Homo sapiens: one gene and its partner. The protein of the gene in region 1 purifies or fractionates together with the protein of each later gene. This does not show direct contact. Each region holds a gene or a part of one and is shown in the gene's direction. Other genes may lie near its edges. The genes, in order: TFAP2D and DPYSL5.

Region 1 (3,824 bases):
TCCAGATGGATTACCTGGAATCACTACTCTCGCTAGCCAAAACTCATCTCTATGGTTCATCCATTATGGGTGAAGATAGAGCCAGAGATACACCTCAAGCCTCGCCTGCCTCCTTAGTCCCCAGTGCAGATTCTGCAGGTTTGAAATTCAATCTCCTTTATATGAAATCTAAAACTCTTGTACCAAAGCATCCAGAAGCATGATTTGTTGGAAATCTTTGTGGGCGTTGGGGGTTGTAGAGGGAAAGAGGTAGCTTTCCCACAGCCTACAGCCTTTTCTCTAATTTCTTTAACTGCTTTGAAAATCAGCAGAAACCAAAACACTTTTTGCACTGGGGAATGGGGATTAATCTCCCCCCAACCCCCGCCATACACACACCCTAATATACACCATTACACACCTACCGCCACATTAAACCAGCGAGTCTCTTCACGCACACCTCTCTTTTGTTCTGCCTGGAATCTACAAAAGGAGAAGCTCATTCGGCCCTGGTAATCCAGCTATACCTGTAATGTTATACCCTCCCCCCAAACAATTCGCTCCTTACACATCATCAAAGGCCTACTTGATTCCAATTAAGTCCGCATCCTTTGCTGTTTGATTACAATTAATATCTGCTGCCGTGGGGGGAGAGGTAACATGGGGGGAGGGGTAACATGGGGGAGGAGGGTTAGGAAGGGTGAGAGGCTAGAGAGGAAGCAGCAGAGAATAATTCTCCCCACCCAACTCACAGGCGCACCTCGCAGAAATGCAACCGCAGAACAAACAGGGACAGGAAACTCTTGTAATCGCTTACACATTTTTAATGTGTCAGAAAAAAAAGAGCGATCACTGGAGATGAAGAAGGGGAGAAGAAAAATCCCTGCCGTTTGTATTTCTTTCATTTGAATTGTAAACATCTGTTTGGCTGTAAGGCGAACAGATCATTTATTTTGCTCTCAAGATTTGGTCTAATTATGTCAACACCGACGCTACGACGAGTGGGGCGGCGCTGTGGCTTTGGAGAGGATGCGCGCACCGGCCCAGCGCCCGGAAGCCCGCTAGGAAGTATTGATCGCACCTGGAGAGCGCGCGGGACCTCTCGCCACAGCTGGGTGCGTTCTGAGACGGGGGAGGCGCGGAGGCCGTGAGTATGGCTCAGAGGCAGATTTAGAGGCTCCAGGGACCCGCGGCTCCTTGGAGACAGCCGCCGCTGTTTCCTCTGCCCCAGTAGCCTGGGATGAGAAGAGAAAAAGCTCACCCAGGCTCCGGCGCTTGTCTTTCCCATCCAGTTGCAGCACAGACGGTGGCGGGGTGTGTGTGTGTGTGTGTCGGCGGGGGGACCTGTCTTGTCCTACCCCGCAGTTCACACCCTGCAACGGGGTAGTTGTTTTTTTAAAAAAAAGTGGCGGGGTTGGGTGGCCTATAATCAGGTTGCCGAGCGTGCGTGCATCCATTTCCCATTGCACCTCCTTACAAGGTGGGGAGATAAGTAGAGCAAGTGTGAGCATCTTCATTGTTTAGATGGACAGACTAGACCCAGAGTCATTCGCCCAAAGTTGCGTGAGTCGATAGTTGGTCAAATTCTTACTTGTAGCCCGGTACTCTTTCCACTGCCCCACACTGTCTGCAGACACTGGCCAGATGTCCCCTGTTATGCCAAGGCAGCCAAGGTAAAGCCACCCCATGCTTCTTCAAACCGAATAAGATCTAACAAGATATGGCAGCTGGAGGATCTGCATCCATGTATTTTGTGCTAGTTTTGTCACACCTGAGCCAGAAGTCTCTGGCTGACTTCTTCCTGTAGCTATGGCAAAGTTATCCCTTTTAATGAAAGCCATGTCCTAGGCAAAGGACCTTGAGCAGATAGTTTCTGATTTCTTACCACTGTTACCATAGCTACCCATCAGAATTTGCAGCATCACTGAAAATAGAGAGCCCTATCTCCAAATTCCAAATTTAAAAATAGTGAACTTTGTGAAAGTATTGCTTCTGTGAACTGTATATGGAAAAGGGATGAACTCTGGAGAAGTTCTGCATGAATACACTGGCTATAGAATCAAAGACATTCTTAATTGTGATGCTGAATCTAGAATGATTATCACATAATTTCAATATGAGCTGACATGCAACACAAGCACCATGAGGAAGTTCAAGTAGTAACACTGGGGATGACTACTGTAAATGGCTTGGTGTGGGCCAACGTTTCATAACATTCTTCTTTGAGATCTCATCATTACCATCTGTAGTCTGGATTATCTTAAAGAAGTATCACTCCCTCAGCACCTTCAATCTAAAGGCAAAACCCTGGTGATATTGACCTACTACTTTTTTCCACCTCTCTAAAGAATAAATCACCAAGAAGAAAGATATCAGGTTCCCCAAGTTGCTGTAAACTCTACAAGTTGCCAAATCTTTAGCCAGGACTAGAGAGTTCCCCAAGGTTGCAGCAATGCCAGGTATCAAAGCAACAGAAATTCCCTTTAAAGATGCTGTGACATAAAAAATAAAAGACTCTAGAGTTGATGGCTAATCCTGAATACAAAATAAATCCTTCAGGCAATTTGTGTGTGCATAAAGCATACTCTTAATATGCAGCTTGTGTAACTTACCTAATAAATGTCTACTTGAGCATAAGCCAGAAGCCCAACCTAGATGTAGGAGAGGGAGACTCTGGGCCCAGGGAGTTAGCACGTGGGTAGATAGCAGACTCAGTGGCTTCCCTGGGAGCAGCTGGCTTTCAACACATAAGGTTCACTTTGCCAAAAGTCTTCCAGTTGGGGAGAGCCTGATCTAACAACTTCTTTTAAAAATGATAATCATCTACATCTCCCTAAATTAGGTTTCTAATCCACTGAAGATTAGTAAAGATAAGAAAGTTCTAAAATTGTGGTATTCCCTACCCTTAGCATCCAGGAAAATAATTCATACATATACTCAAACGCTCTGTTCTCTCACTTATCATAAACTTGAAGCTAACTGGCAACTGTGTGAGATTCCTTGTGTCCTCATTTGTATACTGGCTAGTATGCAAGAGAGGAAAGTTTATGTCAGAATATCAATTTGCTTATGATTTATAGTGACTGTGAGTAGAGATCCATTTTTAGAAGAGGGCTATGTGAATTTTGCATAAAGACATTGATTTCTCTTTGTTTAATATATTTGGGGTAGACTTATCTAATTCCTAAAATAATCAGGATCAAAATTCTCACAGTATGACTCTACACCACAGATTCATTAATACCTACCTTGCTTTCCTGTTCATCTAAAATTTTAAGAAGTCATTTAAGATTTTTTTTTGAAATGCATTTTGCATCTCTAAGTACAGAGTGAAACCGATAACAAAAGTGAAATGGTAGTCTTAGGTCCAGGAATCTGGGGGAACATTTTTATTGTTGTATTTTGGCTTAAAACTCGGTGAGAATATGAAGAGGGGGAAGTACAGGAGAATTTGTTTTTAGCTCCTAAAGCAGGTGTTTACATGGTTTGCCATTGTATTGGCTACAAGTTTGATGTCAAGAAATGGATTTTAATTTGACGATTGAGATTTTGAACTCTCAGATTTCTAACTGCGAACAGGTTTTCAGACACTGTCATGGAGGTTTTGGCAGAGTGCACAGGACCTAACTTCTAGCCTGAAGATGGTTGGCTACCCTGACATTCCCACTGATTACTCTTCTGGTTTTTGTTGGTTTGTTGTTTTTTGGAGGGACTTTAGAATGCTTAGGGAGAAAGATCTTGGTCTCCAGCACTTGCAAGGAAAACTTGGGTGACCAAAAGACAGTCAGGAAGAATTCCAGAAGGTACAGGGGTAGAAATGTTTTAAGAGTGGGGCAAGGTTAACT
Region 2 (3,824 bases), on another chromosome or scaffold:
ACCTTATGAGTTGGGTGTGAGATTCACAGTTAACTAAATAATTTAGCAATAGGCTATCCCATTACAAAATGCTGCACCTTACCTTGTTTAAAATAGAATTTGGACCTCTTTTCTCGTCCAGGTGGCTTCTAGCCCAGAATATTGCTCAGAGTAACCATTCAACAGATAATATTGAAAGAATGACTGAATGGTTTTAGGTGATATTTTACAGGATTTTCCAGCTACTGAGACCTCTGGCTCCCCATTTAAATTTTTTTTCTTTTTCTTTTTCTTTTTCTTTTCCTTTCTTTTTGAGATGGAGTCTTACTCTGTCGCCCATGCTGGAGTTCAGTGGTGCGATCTCTGCTCACTGCAACCTCTGCCTCCCGGTTCAAGCAATTCTCCTGCCTCAGCTTCCCGAGTAGCTGGAATTACAGGCATGCACCACCACACCCAGCTAATTTTTGTATTTTTAGTAGAGACGGGGTTTCACCATGTTGGCCAGGCTGGTCTGGAACTCTTGGCCTCAGGTGATCCGCCCGCCTCAGCTTCCCAAAGTGCTGGGATCACAGGCGTGAGCCACTGCGCCTGGCCTCCCTTTTAAATTAGAAATCATCTGGCCCATGCTGGGCGCGGTGGCTCATGCCTGAAATCCCAGCACTTTGGGAGCCTGAGGCGGGTGGGTCATAAAGTCAGGAGTTCGAGACCAGCCTGGTCAATATGGTGAAACCCCGTCTCTACTAAAAATACAAAAATTTAGCTGGGCGTGGTGGCAGGTGCCTGTAGTCCCAGCTACTCAGGAGGCTGAGGTAGAAGAATCGCTTGAACCCAGGAGGCAGAGGCTGCAGTGAGCCCAGATCGCGGCACTGCACTCCAGCCTGGGTGACAGAGCCAGACTCCATCTCAAAAAAAAAATCATCTGGCCCAAGTAAGATTGAGTTTTTGTGAATGACTAGATTCTTTTGGAAAGAAAGGAGAACTTCTGCATTCTGAATTGTGCACGTGTCACTCCCTACTACCTAACATCTGTCCACTTTCATTGGTTTGGCAAAGGGGTTGAGGTCTGTTGCTGCCTGGACTCCCTGTGAATGTGTGTCTCCCACATGTTAGTAGTGCCCGGTACTCAATCACACCATCTTTGTGTCACTCCAGTGTCCATTTCTAAGCTGCCCCTTTGTTGATTTCAAATCCGCCATGGGCTGACTCGAAATTCTCACGCCTTGGGTCTTTATTCTCCCTTCTTTTGTCTGGTCCTGTCCCTCCCTTTGTCCTTCTGCAGAGCAAGATCCACTATTGATACAGAAGCCGCCTCCTTTCTAATTTTTTACTTCGGATTTCTGACCTTGTAGATTGATATGTTTGTTCTGTTATAAAATTCAAAAACAACCCCCAATTTTTTCATTTAATATCTTTTTGCTCTTGTTTCCAGCATACGTGAAACACTTTCAACCTTAATGAAGTTACTTAAATTGTTTTAAGTTTGCCGTATTGTCAAGTGGCAATACACATACATGAAACAGTCACTTTTGGGGGGTACAGTGGCTGAGGGTGCATTTTAAAAAAAACTAGTAAAGTATAACAGATAAACTGAGAAGTGTACAAACCATAAGTGTATAGCTTGATGAGACATACCCATGTAATCTGCACCAAATTAAGAAACAGAAAATTGGAGTCTCTGAGCCTACTATGGCTCAGAAGCCTGCCTGATTCAAAATCTTATTATTTAAAAAAGGGAAAAAAAGAAAGAAACAGAATTATCAGTACTCAAGGAGAGTCTCTAGTTACTTAGTATTCTTCCTCCATATCCTGACTGCTTATACACAGATCAATCAGCTTTGCCTATTTTTGAATTTTTACAAATGGAATCATGTAGTGGATATTCTCTCACCAGGGGCTTCTTGTGCTCAAGGTTATATTTGCGAGATTTCTCTTACTGTTGTATCTAATTTGCTTATTTTTTTCATTGCTATATAGCATCCCATTGTATGTATGTACCAAATGTGTCAGTTATGTTGCTAATGGTATTTGGATAGTTTCCGGTTTGGGGCTTTCATGGACAGTGCTGCTGTGAACATTCTAGTAGGTGTTTCTGTTGGGTATATATATACCTAGGAGTGAAATTACTGGGTCAGGGATACACACATGTTCTGTTTTAGTAAATTGTGCCAAATGCTAAGATTAATGGAGAAATTAAAAAAAAAATCCTCTGAAGTATACAATGCAGCTGTTTAAACCAAAATCCTAAAGACTGGCACAATATTATGGCTGGATCAGAGGTTGACTTCCAACTCTTATTCTTCAGCAAAAAGTAGAACTTTAAGCTATATCTCTGACTCCACAGTAATCTATCAGTTAAAAAAATTATATATATTATATATACATATATAATATATGTAATAAATATTATATATGTATATATAATATATATTATACTAGTTTTCAAGAATTGTCCACAAATAACCAATTGATTGGCTGAAATGAACACTTTTAAACTAAGCGGTGTACGTCTACCTTAGTCTTGCTACTGCAGTTTTCTTAACTCATGTTTCTTGAGGAAAAGATGAAAATCATATTATAAATGCAACATTGGTCCAGATATCATTCCAGAGATGTCCTGACAGCCTTGGGCAAGATTAACAAGTGCTTTTTATTGTTAACTAATTTATATTTCTTGTATTGGGTCAAATAGCAATTTTGAATTGTGTGATTTCTGTGGCTTAAAAAAAGTCTCAGCCAGGCGTGGTGGCTCACGCCTGTAATCCCAGCACTTTTCGGGCACAAGGTGGACAGATCACCTGAGGTCAGGAGTTCGAGACCAGCCTGGCCAACATATAGCGAAACCCCGTCTCTACTAAAAAACACAAAACTTAGCTGGGCGTGGTGGTGCACACCAGTAGTTCCAGCTACTTGGGAAGCTGAGGCAGGAGAATCGCTTGAACCCGGGAGGTGGAGTTTGCAGTGAGCCGAGATTGCTCCACTGCCCTCCAGCCTGGGCGACAGAACAAGATTCTGTCTCAAAAAAAAAAAAGAAAAAAAATCCCACAAAAGTGTCAGCTTGGAATCACAGAGTTCAGATTTCTTATTTGGCCAGACAGGATATTGATTTCTAATAATGGCCAGAATTCTTATTTCTTATAATAATTTCAGATTTCCTATAATGGCCAGACAGGACACTGCCTTTTTTAAATTTAGAAATAGAATTATGACATGTATCTTATTTTCTGTAGGTTTCTGGAAAAACTTAAAATAGATGTGATTTTTACAGTTGGATTATAATGGAAAGAACCTCTGCAACTAATGAAAAAAGTAAAGATAAGGCACAACAATATGAGCACTAACCTTCAGCCTGTCGCATCTCATGTTCATGGCCAGTATCGTCATGTGGCCCAGGAGAGATGGCAGTGATGGGCATGGCCAGTGTGCATAAAGGACAGTGGTTGAGGCATAATTATAGGATGGTGGTAATGAAACACGAGCAGCCAGAGGAGCCTGCCAAGGCAGTCATGAACTCCTAACTTGGCTGGTTTTTGCCTTATGTGATCCATTCACAGCCCAAATTGTTCCTGAGAAAGATTTTTTTTAGCATGTGGTCTGCCATGTTTGGTATTTGTCTTTATACAAACAAGTGAATGAGATCAGACTTAACATTTTTTTTTTTTTTTTTTTGAGACGGAGTCTCTCTCTGTCACCCAGGCTGGAGTGCAGAGGCGCGATCTCGGCTCACTGCAAGCTCCGCCTCCTGGGTTCACACCATTCTCCTGCCTCAGCCTCCTGAGTAGCTGGGACTACAGGCACGCGCCACCAAGCCCGGCTAATTTTTTGTAGTTTTAGTAAAGACGGAGTTT

The links.
Region 2: the proteins of TFAP2D (region 1) and DPYSL5 purify together in Homo sapiens (affinity purification with mass spectrometry; one large-scale study listed by BioGRID and IntAct). This does not show direct contact.

What each region holds. Positions count from the first base shown.
Region 1 is NC_000006.12:50,723,471-50,727,294, forward strand, and holds part of TFAP2D (transcription factor AP-2-delta), read left to right. Parts: intron 1-3,824.
Region 2 is NC_000002.12:26,854,545-26,858,368, forward strand, and holds part of DPYSL5 (dihydropyrimidinase-related protein 5), read left to right. Parts: intron 1-3,824. UniProt on the Homo sapiens protein: Involved in the negative regulation of dendrite outgrowth.